Linked DNA regions of Homo sapiens: region 1 is linked to region 2. Evidence: fine-mapped expression QTL. Tissue or cell type: whole blood. Region 2 holds a variant in brackets; the other region holds the start of a gene. All regions are shown on one strand. Distances are between the middles of the regions.

Region 1 (8,102 bases), 360 kb after region 2:
TCTAAGTCCTGGAATCTAAGCCACACTCTACAGACCTTCTCAGAGACCTTATACTTAGGAAGAAACAAGAAAGTAAAGAAATTCAAATAGATAAACCGAATAATAAGGAAGTCCTTACCCAGTGAGACCACGTTCCCATAATTCTCTAACATCACTTCTCTGTAGAGGTCCCTCTGAACAGGGTCCAGGTATCCCCATTCCTCTCGAGTAAGGTGCACAGCCACATCCTCGAATGTCACAAACTCCTGAAATAACACATCCTGGCTGCTCTGAGGAATGAGAACACTGTAGCACCATGGCCAGAGAATGAAGATCATAGAGAGGGTATCCACTGTGTACTTACGTTGAGGAGGAGGGAGAACAGATTAGAACCTACGGAATAAAGCCCATAACCCTTAAACATCTAATAAGCACCCATCACACAACCATGGACAAAGAGAAAACAGAGTTTGCTCATGGCACTGGGGAGATGGGAAGTTGGTTTATGTGAAGTCCAGGTCTCCGAAGAGGATCAATTCCCAAACTGGAGTCTGCTATTGAAAAAAATTCCAGGCAAGGTCTACAGATGGGATGAGAGAGAGGCCACACTCCATCAGTAGCAATAGTCCCTGAGGAAAAGCAGAGGGTTCCTCAGCTCACCTGGTACCTGGCTGTCAAGAGCGCAGCTGCCTGGTCTCCTGGGCTTCCCTCACGGGGAAGAGCAGGCACCTGAGGAACAGGTGGAGCTGAGGGAGGAGAAAGGAGTGAAGAGTGAGAGCAGCCCTTTCCCAGGGCTCCCTTTCAGAGGAGGCCTCTCCAGCCCAAGGGGTGTCAGCAGGACCCTCCTCAATACTCTAGTAAAACCAATGAACATTTTTCAGGTATTGGGTGTGTCTACTCTGCTTCGTCTCAGTACTTGCATGCCTTATGCGTGTTTTGACCTGTGATACAGGATTTTCTTAGGAAAGCTTGTATTTCACTTTATCTTCATCACATGACAGTCCTCTTACAGAAGAGTAAGACTATACCTGTTTTGCAGATGGGCAAAGCAAAGCATAAAGACTTGTGGGGACTTGTCCTGGGCTAGGGTTATTTAGCAGACTTCTGACCCTTTCCAGGCACTGTTCTAGACACTTGATCAGCGTTTCTCTTGTGAATGGGTGCTGTCTCAACCAGTGTGTAAGGCCCCCAAGAACAAGAAAGGGTCATCTGTTTCCTCGAAATCTTTTCCACAGTCCCACAATCCCCCACAGCACTCTACACATTGTGGCACTTGATCTGTGTGGGTGACACACAAGTTATTTCAGGCACTAGAGTTAACCACAGGCAATCTAAGACACAGCTCTTATAAAACAAAGGAAGAAAAAGACCAACCTACCTATACGATACAGCAAAGTGTGACTGCGTAGTCAAAATACAGTATATATACATTCATACAGGCATTGTGTTCAACCAAGGAATTAAATGGTTGCTTCCTTGACCAAATTTAGTCTAGTCACAAAACACTGCAGTTACAACAGAATGGATGGCAGGTGACAAAGCAAAGAAAAACTAAGTGAAGGGAACAGGGGAAAGAAAGGTCCTGAACCTAAGAGGAAGTGAGAGCCAGGAAAGGACTGTGAGATGTGGCAAAAGCAGCATATCTTAGAAATTATTCTGGATGTGAGAACTGGGATGAAGTGAAGGTTGCCTGAAGGAAAAACCACCACAGCGAGTAAGCAGCCATCACTCTGCTTATTTGAGAAAGATGAGCTATCCTTAATAAAGGGGCTCAGACTAGGACTGAACTGAGTCACATCTGCCCCCTCTTTCATTCCTCCCTCTAGGGACCATGTTCTTATTCCAGTTCTTGGCCTCTCTCAAACCAGGCCCAGGAGCCCCCTCGGGAGCCCCTCCGCACTCCCACTCTCCCAGACGGAAGTGCTTTCTCTGCCTTACCCCCAGTGAGTCCCTGTTCCATGTCGGTGTCCTGCACAAACTGAGGCTCTGGGGACAGACACTCAGACTGGGTCTCCAAAGACTGAAACTGGACCCTTGGTGACCCTGCTGCTTCCTGGGCTGGTATTTCCTCCATCACTGCTCTGGAGGACAATGACCATCACTGCAAGGTAAGATTAAGAGAAATTACTGTAATAAGTTAAAGCATTTCATCATTTTATATCGTCAGGACTTTGCAAAGGATCTTACACACTATGGATATTCAATAAAAATTAGTTGATAATGATTAACCACCCTAAATAAGTAACAGAAAAATGGGGCCAGGCGCAGTGGCCTGTAATCCCAGCACTTTGGGAGGCTGAGGCGGGAAGATCACTTGAGGTCAGGAGTTCAAGACCAGCCTGATCAACATGGTGCAACTTCTTCTCTACTAAAAATACAAAAATTAGCCAGCGTGGTGGTGCGGGTCTGTAATCCCAGCTATTCGGGAGGCTGAGGCAGGAGAATTGCTTGAATACAGAAGGCATACGTGGCAGTGAGCCAAGATTGCACCACTGCACTCCAACCTGGGCAACACAGTGAGACTCCGTCCCAAAAAAAAAAAAAAGAAAAAAAAGAAAAAGAAATATGGATATGCTTCAGCTTTAAATACTTAAGAACCAAATCATAGAAGAGTCTCTAATTTGGAATTTGTGGCATTAAAAAAATTAACACGGTACAATTTAATAGTGTAAAGCTTTCTGTGGAAACTTTAAAATATTTAAAATTGGCCACGTGCGGTGGCTCAAGCCTGTAATCCCAACAGTTTGGGAGGCACAGACGGGTGGATCCCTTAAGCTCAGGAGTTCCAGACCGTCCTGGACAACATGGTGAAACCCCGTCCCTACAAAAAAAAAAAAAAAAAAAAAAATTAGGTGGCCCAGGCCTGTAGTTCCAGCTACTCCAAAGGCCAAGGCAGGAGAATCGCTTGAGCTTGGGAGGTAGAGGCTGCAGTGAGCTATGACTGCGCCACTGCATTCCAGCCTGTATGACAGCGTGACAGCCCACCTCAAATAAACAAAACAAAATATTTAAAATTTACAATCGTCTTTGGAGGCTCAAGTTGGTGCCCAGAGAAAAATGCTAGTTATGATTGCTCATTTTATTTTAATTTTGTTTTAGCAGAGATGGGAGTCTCGCTATGTTGCCCAGGCTGGACTCGAACGCCTGGCCTCAAGCGATCCTCCCACTTCGGCCTCCCAAAGTGCGGGGATTACGGCGTGAACCACCGTGACAGGCCCGCGTTTACGTAAATAAACTCATTTAAATAAATAAAACAGCAGGCCCCCTAGGAAATGTCTTGGTAACACCGTCAGCCCACTCCGATTTACTACACGGGCTTGGCGAATAAAACTCCACTTTTGGGGTCAGGCCCTTCGCTAACTCAGACCAGCTAGACCGGCCTTTTCCCGGAATCCTGAGAGCAACGCAGGTAAGAGCTGCGGTTCGAACAGGTTTGAGCGGCGTCCTTCAGGCCCAAGGACGCATGAGGGTGCCGTCCCCCTCCCACCACCCTCGCCCTGGGCCCCTGCCCGGCTCCCAGCTCGGTCCTCAGAAGGCCTTGCCCGGCGCTGCCCTCCTCCCACTTCCCTTTTAGGCCAAGGCAAAGTCCCAAAAGGACCAGTGAGGACATACAGACCAGCTCGCACCAGGGCACGGTCGCCGGCTCCTGACGGCGGGGCCCTCGGTCCGCGAGGTGAATGAACCAGGGCTGAAGAGAAACAGGCCCTCCTCGCACCCGGGCCTCCGCGCACTCTCGGGGAAGCGAACTACCGTCGGCCGCGGCCGGACGCCGCCTCCTTCTACTCCCGTGAAGGCAAAACAAGCTGCCACCCCGCTGCGACCCCAAAACGGCTTCCGGGTACTCACCGAGGGGAGGGGCGGGCCTGGCCGCTGTCCTGTCACCTACACACTCGCGCTCGGGGCCACCACAGCCTCTCCCGGGCCGCTGTAGACAGCCCCGAGGCCGGCGCTTCTCGGTGGCACTTCCGGCGACGGAGTGCAGGGTCCCGAATGAGGGCCCCCCCTCCTCCGCCCAGGCATGAGGGTCCCGGATGTGGGTGAGAGCCCCGGATGAGGGTCCCGGATGTGAGTGAGGGCCCCGGATGTGAGTGACGGCCCCGGATGAGGAACTCGGAGGAGGAGCTGGGCCCGCGCGTCCATGATTCGAAGGCTCGTTTTCGCAGCTTTTCCACGTCTTTTTCCGGTCCCACTGCCCTCCATGCTAACTCACTGGGCGTCTCTAGCCGTTATACCAACAATGACTGCGACCAGTGTTGGGAAAGCGCCCCCTGGGCCCCTCCCTGACGCCAGCCCATCCTTGAGACTCCCTGCAAGGAGGCGGCCCGACCCAGTGGGTGCGTGTCGTGGGGTGAGGAGGAATGGCCGACCTAATGGTCCCGCTTCCGTGAGTAGCACAGGGGTGCCTGCTCAGAGTGTAGTACAACGCTGACAAGTAGAAGGCGAGGATTGCGGGGCCTGGGTGAGATGGGACCCACTAAGTTGTGGGATCGAAATCTCAGTAGGTCCTTGGGGAAAGCGGGGACGGGAGGGGAGATGAGCAGATTGGAATAGAACCGAGAGAGACGGAGGAAACTGACAGTTGCGTCCCTGGTGGGAAGACTAAAATCTATGCAGAAACAGGGATAGGCAAAAGCATTGTGCACAAGCGGGACAGGCAGAGCGCCGGGACAGAAACCCTTAGGACATTCTGACACCTTGCTGAACCTGGATCCTTACAGAATATGTCTTGTAGGTGAAGCTAGATCTGCAAGGCATAGGCAAGCCTCTTAGAGAATCAGAAAAGTGATTTGGAAGGAACTTCAGCTGTTACTACTTTGTTTAAGCAAATCAAATGCTGTTCTTTAATGTTACTGGACGTTTCAAATTAAACACAAGAAAACCTGAAGTGTGGCATTTTATATATTTTTTCAAAATGTATCAGCTTCTTGGAGATTCTGATATTCCTTTCCTCTCTTTATCCCTAAGTATCATTTATCCAACCTAAATTCATACTAGGACACAATCTCTCTAGTCTGCAGTGCCCGTCACAGTGGAGTCAGGATCGGAGAAAGAAAATGCACTGCTTAGTCCATTTCATGCTGGACAGCTCCAATTAGAAACTTTTCCTTGTGTTGAACAGAAATACACCCCTGGTGATGTCTATCTATTGTTCCTGTTGACAGGTCCCCAGGACAATAGATGACACAGTACTTCTTCCTCTTCATAACGGCCATTTTAATATCCTAGGAGAGCTAAAGGTTTGGAGTTCTTCCTGAGTTGCCATTTCCCCACCTAGAACCCTTCACAGGTTGTACCTATTAGCAATGTGATGGGAAACCATTTCAGCAGCAAAGGTGAGTGAGCTATGGCAGTGAGGCACATCGCGTCCAAGTTTTAGCTGACTCAGGCAATTGGCTCCAGTGAGAGGACCACAAAAGGTACCCACTTAAAGAGGCCACTTCCCACCAGTACTCATCAAAACATAACAAAGTGTTAAGAAACAGCAGCTGCTATTTTGCTTTTGAGCAAAATTTTCTTTTAACAGTTTGCCAGATGACAGAGGTGGAAACAACTCAAAAAATTGTTACCTTTTTTCGTTTTTGTCTTTTTGTTGTTGTTGAGACAGAGTCTTGCTCTGTCGCCCAGGCTGGAGTGCAGTGGCGCGATCTCAGCTCACTGCAACCTCCAGCTCCCAGGTTCAAGCATTTTCCCTGCCTCAGCCTCCAGAGTAGATGGGATTACAGGTGGGCACCACCACACCTAGCTAATTTTTGTATTTTTAGTAGAGATGGGGTTTCACCATGTTGGCCAGGCTGGTCTCAAACTCCTGACCTCGGGTGATCCGCCCGTCTTGGCCTCCCAAAGTGCTGGGATTACAGGCGTGAGCCACTGCACCGAGCCTGTTTTGTTTTTTTTAGTGCAAATTAACAAACTGATTCTAAAGTTTATATAGAAATGCTAAGGATTTAGGATTGCCAAAACAATTTTGAAAAAGAATAAAATTGGAATACTTGTATTTTTTTAAGATTTTTTTCCTAAAGGTACAGTAATCAGGATGGTATGGTATCAGCATAGAGACAAATAGATCAACAGAGCAGAACAGAAAGTCCAGAAATATGAGGTTGAATTTCTTAAAGAAAAAAAAGTCCAGAAATAGATCTAGATACATACAATAGCTGATTTTTTATAAATTACTAAGGTAATTCTGCATCTAGCTAAGCTGAAAATTAGGCCGAGGATCTGTTTGTAACAGTGACAGTAATGTAAAGGAGACCAATTGTGCAGACTCGGCAGGTCCCCTGAGTCAAAGTCGTGGCTCATACAGGGAGAGGGTGGGATCCTGAGACCTGTTCTCTGTCACAGTGTAGTCCGCAGGAACTTTACCCAACCATCATGATGGTCCATATATTGATGACAAATGCTAGTAGTACCCAGTGAGCAGCAAGTGACAAGGGTCATAAATATCCTAGTAAGACTTCTTACTAAGGCAGTACAGAAACCTGAAGATATGGGCACTTATCAAATGGATGAAGTTTTGGTGGGGCCCAGTGGTTTGGGGACATCACCCAAAGGTAAAAGAAAGTTGTTCCACCTTGCACCCTCTAATCCCAAAAAAATTGGTACAGGTCCTGGTGGGCCCCTTTGGATTTGGGAGGTAGCATATTCTGCACCTGAGAAAACTGTTCCAACACATGTATTAGGTGACCTAAAAAGCTTCCACTTTTTATTTATTACTATTTTTTTTTCTTGACACGGAGTCTTGCTCTGTAGCCCAGGCTGGAGTACAGTGCCGTGATCTCGGCTCACTGCAACCTCTGCTTTCTGGATTCAAGCAATTCTCCTGCCTCAGCCTCCCTAGTAGCTGGGATTACAGGCGCCCGCCACCATGCCCAGCATTTTTGTATTTTAGTAGTGGAGGGGTTTCACCATGTTAGCCAGGCTGATCTTGAACTCCTGACCTCAAGCAATCCACCCACCTCCGCCTCCCAAAGTGCTGGGATTACAGACGTGAGCCACCATGCCTGGCCAGCTTCCACTTTTTATTGGGGCAAGAGAGCACTCTATAGTAAATCCAAGCAACAGTGCAAGCTTACTTGCAAATTCAGTGGTTCCAGAAATATCCTTGATGGATACAGGTGCTGTATGGAGTTGCTGGCAAACCCCAATAAGAGTGTGCATTCGTGTGCTAGGGCTCCTATAACAAAGTACCACAAACTGGGTGGCTTAAACAACAGAAATCTGTTGGTTCACAGTCTGGAGGCTAGAAGTCAGAAATTAAGGTGTGGTTCCTATTGAGGCTGTGAGAAGGAATCTGTCCATGCCTCTCTCCTAGTTTCTGGGGATTTGCTGGATATATTTTGCATTCCTTGGCATCGTAAGAAGCATTTTCCCAGTCTTTACCCTCATCTTCATTTGGCATTCTCCCTGTGTACTATCTCTAAACTTCCCTTTTTTATAAGGATACCAGTCATTAGATGAGGGACCCACCCTAATCCACTATGACCTCATCTTGAAGTAATTACATCTGCAATGCCTCTATTGCCAAATAATTTCACATTCTGAGGTATTAGGGGCTAGAACTTCAACCTGTTAATTGGGGATGAGGTGGAGGTACAATTCAACCCATCATAAAGAGTCACAGCACAAATACCTAAGATTCTGGAGCAAGGTCATGCCTTCTAAGGCAAAAAAACAAAACCCACGTTTCCAAACTCCCAGGTCAGTTACCTCTGCTCTACTGCCACCTCTCCCATAAACTTACTCCTATGGCCTTATAAAAGTTCCCTACAACTAACTGATGGAGACAGAAGAGCCTTGGCCTCTGCACAGATTGGGGATTGGGTCAGTTCAGCATGTTGGCATCTTCCAGAAACAGACTGTTCTTCATTACAGCCCCACTCGCGTTGCCCTGAAGCATACTGGTGAAGAAAAATTATCTCAGTGAGCAATGGTACATTTGGTCACCCATGCCATATTTTGGAGGAGGTAGCCTAAGGTAGGGATATGCATTGACTCCTAGGCAGTGATGAATGGCTTGGCTTGTTGGTTAGGGACCATCTTATTGTTTATGCAATAGGCTTATGAACAGAGACCATGGTAGCAGGGATAGAGGCTGTGCGTGGTCCCAACAATATGGGCTACCT
Region 2 (8,102 bases):
TCTTTGCTTTGCTAGGAGTTTTGTCCAATTCCTTGTTCAAAACGCCAAGAACCTGGACAACTTGCAGTCACTATCCTCTACCAGTGACAAAAGTATACAATTAAATAGCCTTTAGTATATTCAGAGTTGTATATCCATCAACACTACCAATTTAATAACATTTTCATCAACTTAAAAAAACCCTACCCCCTCATGTTACTCTCAAACTCTTATTAGCACCCAAAACATGCAACCATCATATGGTTTTGTCTCTATTGGTTTTCCTACTCTTTCATACAAATGGAATCATGCAATATGTGGTCTTTCATGTCTGGCTTCTTTCACTGAGCATAACTTGAGGTTCATTCATGTTGTGGCATGTTTCAGTATTACATTCCTTTATATGGTTGAGTGTTATTCCACTGTTAGGATATACCACATTTTGTTTAAGGAGATACCACATTTTGTTTATACATTCTTCAGTTTCAGGACATTTGGGTTGTTTCCATTTTTTGGCTCTTATGACCACTGTTGCTATGAACATATGTGTACCACTTTTTTTTTTTTTTTTGGGATGGAGTCTCACTCTGTCACCCAGACTGGAGTGCAGTGGTGTGATCTTGGCTTATTGCAACCTCCACTTCCTGGGTTCAAGCGATTCTCCTGCTTCAGCGTCCTGAGTACCTGGGACTACAGGTGCGCACCACCACACCCAGCTAATTTTTGTATTTTTTGTAGAGACAGGGTTTTGCCATGTTGGCCAGGCTGGTCTCAAACTCCTGACCTCAGGTTATCTGCCTGCCTCAGCTTCCCAAAGTGCTGGAACAACAGTCCTGAGCCACCACACCTGGCCCCAGTTTTAGTGTTGTGTAAACACATGTTGTCAGTTCTCTTGCATAAATAACCAGGAATAGAATGTCTGGGTCATAAGGAAACTCCACGTTTCAACTTTTGAGGAACTGCCAAACTCTTTTCCACAGCAGCTGCACTATTTTTACATTCCTACCAGCAATGTGGGAATACTTTTTATTTATCTATTAAATTCTAGCCATCCTAGTGGGTGTGAAGTGGTATCTCATTGTAGTTTTGATTTGCACTTGCCTAATGGCTAATTACATTGAACATTTTCCATGTGCTTAGTGGTTATTTGTATATCTTCTTTGGAGAAATGTCTATTCAAATCCTTTTCCCATTTATAAATAGAGTTTTTTGTATTTTTGTTGTTGCATTGTAAGAGCTCTTTATATATTGTGGGTATTAGATACTTATTGTATGTATGATTTCCAAATATCTTCTCCCATTCTATGATTGTCTTTCACTTTCTTGATAGTGATGCACAAAAGTTTTAAATTTTAATGAAGTCTAACATCCAATTTTTTCTTTTGTTGCTTATGATTTTTGTGTATTACCTAAGAAACTATTGCCTAATTCACAGCCATAAAGATTAATGCCTATGTTTCCATAAGAGTTGTATAGTTTCAGCTCTTACATTTAGGTCTCTGGTTGGTTTTGAGTTAATTTTTGTGTATGGTGTAAGATAAATGTCAAACTTTATCTTTTGCATGTGGATATTCAATTGTCTCAGCACTATTTCTTTTTTAAAAACTTTTTTTATTTAAATGGGTACATAGTAGGTTATATATTTATGGGGTATACAAGGTATTTTGATACAGGTATGCAATGTGTAATAGTCACATCAGGGTAAATGGGGTATTTATCACCTCAAGCCTTCAGCCTTTGTTATAAATAATCCAATTATACTAGTTATTTTATAATGTACAATTATTTTTGACTGTAATCACCCTGTTGTGCTATCAACTACTAATTCTTATTCATTCTATTTTTTGTACCCATTAACCATCTCCACTTTCCCCCTACTACCCTTCCCATCCTTGGTAATCATCAGAGAAGATATACAGATAATAAGAAAGCATATGAAAAGATGTTTAACATCATTTATCATTAGAGAAATGAGAATGATTGACTTTAGGGTTAGGGAAGAGAAATACAAGATAAGACTGGAGGATTTTGTAGCGGTAGAAAGTAAGAAAGTGCTACTCCCTCTTCCCCACAAAATGACAGGAGTTTGTCAAAGGGACACAGATGTCAACTGAAAAAGTTCCCAATGGCCAACACAGGAATAATCTGAGCAGTAAAATAAACAACATAGTATTGGATTATACCCAAAGTATAAAATAGGAATCCATGAATTCATAATATAAATAATTGAATAAATAGGAGATAACTGACAAATTTCTCATGCAGAAGAATGTAGATACTCCACCGCAAGGAGGGGAAATATAACTACTCACTTTTTTTTCTTTTGAGATGGAATTTTGCTCATCGCCCAGGCTGGAGTGCAATGGCAGGATCACTGCAATCTCTGCCTCCCAGGTTCAAGCAGTTCTCCTGCCTCAGCCTCCTGAATAGCTGGGATTACAGGCGTGCACCACCATGCCTGGCTAATTTTTGTATTTTTAGCAGAGACGGGGTTTCACCATGTCGGCCAAGCTGGTCTCGAACTCCTGACCTCAGGTGATCCACCCACTCAGCCTCCCAAAGTGCTGGGATTACAGGCGTGAGCCACCGTGCCCACCAACTACTCCCTTTTTAGGCATGGGCTGCACATAGTGACTTCCCACTAAACAGTAAAATAGGGGGAGGGGAAAGAATAACTTTACAGGGAGAAACCCATCAAATACTACCTCAGCCGGGTGATCAAGGTTAACATCAACAGTGATGAGCAATGTTGACAGCATGTGCCCCGGATATGATGTGATGACGGTTTTTGTATTTTCCCGTTCTAAAATTTCCATGGGGCTATTCTTTGTATTTTCTATTACTTCTCTGAGACTTTTAAACTTTCCATTTGAATAGCAGCTTTATAGTCTTGATAATTCCAACATGTGTGGCAACTTACATTCTGCATCTGTTACATTTTTTCCCAACGTGAGTTGAGATTTTCCTGGTTCTTCACCTGCCAATTAATATCGATTGTATCCTGGACATTTTGAATGTCATTAGGATGCTCTGGGTCTTGGTTAAATTTGGTGGAGGATGTTGATATTTATGTTTTAAAGGGTAATTAACCCATTTGGGTTCAAGTCATAAGTTTTGACCAGCCTTCTGAGGGTTGTGGTTCCAATGTCAGTTCAGTTTTCAAAGCCTTTGTAGTACTCTTCTGATAGGTCCCACATGGGTGGCACCTAAAGTGTAACCCAGGGTCCTTGGGTTTTGGGTA[C/T]GCACTGTGAAAAAGTTACACACTTGTAACTGTTACATCTTGAATTTTTGTTTTAAAAAGTTCCAGGAAGAAGCTTAGCCCAGGAAAAACAAAGACCAGTTGGACCCAGAGATGCCTGAGTTGGAGATGAACTTTGGCCAACTTTCCTCATCACCATACTTAAAATCCTGTCCAAGGAGGAGCTTATTCACCATTTTCTATACATGTGACATATGTAGCAGCATAACCGACAACTGGGACTGCGCTGCCTTGACTCCACCTCTACATACAATGACTCAGCTAACCAGACTAATAAAAGCCATGTTTGCACCATTGCTCAGGGAGGCATTGCTTTGGGGAATTATTCCCAGTGTCCTCCTTACTTATCGCAAGTAATAAAATCCCCCTGGGAAATCCTCCTTGGTTGTGGTCATTGGACTGTCCCCTGCCAAGCAATTTAACCCATTCATTGTGTGGGTAACAAAAGGCCAGTCTGGGACATGAGATCTGGGTCTACAGTTTAGTTCTCAAAGTCTTTGGCATGCAATTTAGGACCAGATTCATCATACCAAAAAAGGGAGATAGTCTCAACAGAATTCTCAAATTACTTAAATATCAGAGGCAGTGTAGAGAAGGAGTACTTGGTGGTATGGTAGGTTTTCTGACAGGAAACAAAAGATGGAGGTAAAATGGAACCAGTACTTTCTTTCTGAGAATACTGACTGCACCAACCATAACATGAAGCGAAGGCTATATCTCCCTGAAGTAAGAAATGTAATAAAGGAAACTTTCAGAAATAATAGATCATCTGGAGATGTTGGGCAGTGTATTTGGTAAGTTATAACTACCAGGTATCAATACAATAAGCTTAGTTTGAATACAATAAGCTTAGTTTCTTTTTAAAGAATTTATCCTGCTCTGTGTTCTCTGAGCTCCTTGGATTGGTTTGGTGTCTTACAAATTTTGGAAATTCTCAGCCATTATTTCTTGATTTTTTTTTTTTTTTTGAGATAGAGTCTTGCTCTGTCGCCCAGGCTGGAGTGCAGTGGTGTGATCTCAGCTCACTGCAAGCTCCGCCTCCCGGGTTCACGCAATTCTCTTACCTCAGCCTCCCGAGTAGCTGGGACGACAGGTGCCTGCTACCATGCCCGGCTAATTTTTTTGAATTTTTAGTAGAGACGGGGTTTCACTGCGTTAGCTAGGATGGTCTCGATCTCCTGACCTCGTGATCTGCCTGCCTCGGCCTCCCCAAGTGCTGGGATTACAGGGGTGAGCCACTGCGCCTATTTCTTGATTTGATGTTGATATTTTCCCACCAGTCTTGGATGCTGTGTTCTGTTTCTGTCACTCTTTTTGTGTGTGTGTGTGTGTGTGTTTCAGCAATTTCTATTTACCTACCTTCAAGTCTGATTTTTTCCTCAACTGTGTTCAGTCTCCTAATGGGCCCATGGAGGGCATTCTTCATCTCTATTATTATATTTTTTATTTTTATAGTTTCCATTTTATTTTTCCTGATAGTTTCCATCTATTTGCTAAAATCACCCATCTGAGCTTGCATTTTGTTCACCTTTCCCCTTAGGGCCTTCATCACATTAATCACAGTTATTTAAAATTCTCTCATATTTCTAATGTCTATGTCTTATGAATCTGGTTCTAATGATTGTTTTATCTCTTTGGACTGTGTTTTTTCTTGCCTTTCTGTATGCGTCTTTTTTTCTTTCTGTTAAAAGTTAGTCATGTTGTATTTTTTTTGCTTAAATTATTTTTTCAATTCTCTCTTCACAGTATGAAGTAAAGATTGTTTTTATGCTTGGAGATGAGTGTGTCTTTCCTTCTGCTAGGCCTTTAGTGCTCTTGAGTGCATAGCAGTGGTTCGGTGGTATCAGTCTAGTCAGAAATTGGGCTAGGTTTACAGTTTGTTGTTGTGGTTATCCTCAGTGCACAACAGACTTCAAATTTCTCTAGAGATAGCTTATGTGTAGGGTGTGGACTTTATTTTGAAAGTGTGTTTTAAAGAGGTCTGTATGGATGTCAACTCGATGCAGAGTGGACAGTGGTAATTTTGTAATATATCAACTTTGCTAAGCTAAACTATGTTTCCCAGAATTTCCTTTCCTTTTGTTTCTGGTTAGAATAGCCCAACAGAGACATGGTTGTGTAAGTCTTGAAGGGGAGAACTGAAGCATCCCTCCAGTTTTATACTTGAAACGGTGGTGCAGGGACACTAGGTGCTACTGCGGCTCATCTACTTTGTCACCAATCAGCTGGTTCACCTTGTTGGGATGGGGCAGAAGCTTTTCCCTGAGTCTTCCTTCACCTTTTTTGATTCCTGAGCTGTGTGTGTGTCTAGTCCTGTGGCAAAAAGTGTCAGCTCCTCTAGCAAGGATACTCATATCTTTAAAGTTGGAGACAGTGAAAGAATGACCAGCTCGTGTCTTAGGTTCCAACTCATTTTTGCTCTTCCCTACTTTATGTTCATCTTCCCTTCTTAACTGCTTGCCCTGCGAACATAAAGAAACATAGTGATTCCACTTCTCTGAATGAACCTTGGCTGGTATACAGACTTATAGACATTTTGTGATGGAGAAAAATTGTTAATTAGGGAGCCTCACTTAGTAAAGAAGGAAGGTCATCTCTGGTATGGCAGGAATAAAGACATAAGGATTTTAAGGGATTTACCTGAAAAGATTTAAATGACTACTGTAAGGGGAATAAATACTTTGCAGGAATGCTGAAACTTCTCATTCAATACTTAGGTAAACATATAGACACACAGATGCCATAAACACTCATGGTAAACATCAGTAACTGTTAAGAGCATTCCTTCCTGCTTGGTCCCTATTAAAGAACCAGATCCCTTCTCCATAGAGTATTCCAATTTGCAAAGAAAATCCATTCATTAGTTGTCCAATTTAAATGTTTTAGAAATATTCAGTGGAACTTTCATCAATAACCCCCAAACAGATACCTCAAGAACCCCTTTTTCTAATCATTTAATCATACTACTTACTGAGAAAAATTATTATAGGAAAGGCAGTATTTGATATTGGGACATAAAAAGAATGAAAAATCTGTTAAATAAGCAAAAGCCCATTAGCCTGAGGCTGTCTTGGTACTTGAGTTCCCATATAACAAAATACAACCTGACTTAGTATGTAAACGAACTGAAGCCTAACTTACTTTATTTTTTATAACAGCTGGGTTTCAGCCAATCACGGCCGAGCTTCAGCAAATAACAGACAGCCAACTGATCAGACCATGCCCCAATAAGGCAAATGCCTCATCATATCATTGTCAAATAAGGCAGACACCTAGATGTTAGCTAATGAGGTGATTTCTCTACTTTGCTTCCTATAAAAGCTAGCAGGTCATACTGCTGGACAGAGCTCTCTGAACCTCTTTTGGTTCTGAGTGCTGCCCAATTCATGAACTGTTCTTTGTGCAAATAGCTTCTATTAAATTTGTCAGTCCAGAGTTTTTTTTGTTTTAAACAAATATTCACAAGAAAAGGAAGAAAGTGGGAAGAATAAAAAGCAAAGCACCTCAGAAACACAAGATCGAAAATCCACTTAAGGGATATAGATAATTCCCTGAAACAGGTGAGCATATTATTTGTTGAAAGCCTCCATGGATGTTCTTTGGGATAGCAAAATGGTTGCTACTTTTCAAATTGGATACCAAAAAGGCAATGTATCTGCATCTCAGAATCCAAATCATCCCCACGTTAGCCAAACTCCAGGCCTACCAACACAGATCCTTCAAGTCTTCCTGGCCTTCCAGGCCCCTAGGCTGCAGCTCGCCCAGAACTCCTGGGACTCTAAAACTTAAATCGGTCTAACCAGCAGGCGAACACAGACCTGAACCCTCAAACTTGGAAAGAAAGATCATAGGCACCTCCCCGGTTGGCTCCCCCAGGGACCACAACGTCCGGCTCTAACGCCTTGCCCAAGTCCTCTGTAGCTTTCCACAGGCATTTCTGGGTCTCTATAGCTGTTTGGAGGAGCCACTCACCGGTCCCGTCCTGCCCCGCGCCTAGGCCTGAACCAACCCCCTCGCGGTTCCGGCGCGGATACCCAGCAGCTTCCGGTCTTGCGCGCTCAGGCCGGGCAACGTCCGTGCGTTCTTTTTGGGTCCTGAACCCCGGAAGAGAAACTGCGTTGTACCCTTTTACGTGAGGCGGTGACGGCGGTTCGGAAGTCGTCTGGCCTCCCCGCGGCCGCTCGCAGCTTGCTGGCCTCTCCCGCGCCTCACGTCGGACTCCGTCTCCGCGGCAGGGAAGCAGCATGGAAGCTGAGGACATCCAGGAGGAGTTGACCTGCCCCATCTGCCTGGACTATTTCCAGGACCCGGTGTCCATCGAGTGCGGCCACAACTTCTGCCGCGGCTGCCTGCACCGCAACTGGGCGCCGGGCGGCGGCCCGTTCCCCTGCCCCGAATGTCGGCACCCATCGGCGCCCGCCGCGCTGCGACCCAACTGGGCCCTGGCCAGGCTGACTGAGAAGACGCAGCGCCGGCGCCTGGGCCCCGTGCCCCCGGGCCTGTGCGGCCGCCACTGGGAGCCGCTGCGGCTCTTCTGCGAGGACGACCAGCGGCCAGTGTGCCTGGTGTGCAGGGAGTCCCAGGAGCACCAGACTCACGCCATGGCACCCATCGACGAGGCCTTCGAGAGCTACCGGGTGAGCTGGCCGTCGCGGTGACTATGACGGGGCTGTCAGTGTTGCCCGATAAAGTTTACTTAATGCTCCTAAAAGAGCCACGAAGTGGCTGTCATTCCTACTGGAAGCATGAAAAGCCCCTGAAACTCAAAGAAGTTAAGCAAAACACGAATTTCAGAGCTAGGGTTAAAACTGGAATGAGAGGAGGGGAGGTGCAAACCTCAGCAATCATTGTGCAGAATTTTCAA

The links. PIP is the estimated chance that this variant, and not a neighbour inherited with it, causes the effect.
Region 1: ZNF655 starts here. The variant in region 2 is fine-mapped to the expression of ZNF655 in whole blood (TOPMed, PIP above 0.99).

The regions. Positions count from the first base shown.
Region 1 is chr7:99,554,511-99,562,612 of GRCh38, reverse strand. It overlaps ZNF655 (zinc finger protein 655), which reads right to left and starts at 3,971. Exons shown (of 3, transcript NM_138494.3): 1 at 3,826-3,971; 2 at 1,918-2,080. The coding sequence starts at 2,053. It overlaps LOC105375422 (a long non-coding RNA gene), which reads right to left. Exons shown (of 3, transcript XR_927801.4): 3 at 6,656-7,877. It also overlaps a transcript of FAM200A not described here. RefSeq lists enhancers at 3,897-4,166, 4,197-4,326.
Region 2 is chr7:99,918,782-99,926,883 of GRCh38, reverse strand. TRIM4 (tripartite motif containing 4) reads left to right here and starts at 7,354. Exons shown (of 6, transcript NM_033091.3): 1 at 7,354-7,875. The coding sequence starts at 7,483. It overlaps GJC3 (gap junction protein gamma 3), which reads left to right. Exons shown (of 2, transcript NM_181538.3): 2 at 3,281-3,618. The coding sequence ends at 3,339. It overlaps LOC101927610 (a long non-coding RNA gene), which reads right to left and starts at 7,281. Exons shown (of 2, transcript XR_001745296.3): 1 at 7,057-7,281; 2 at 1,570-5,700. RefSeq lists enhancers at 6,983-7,092, 7,333-7,412, 7,443-7,492 and a silencer at 7,623-7,782. The variant C/T (reference allele first, on the strand shown) is at 3,221.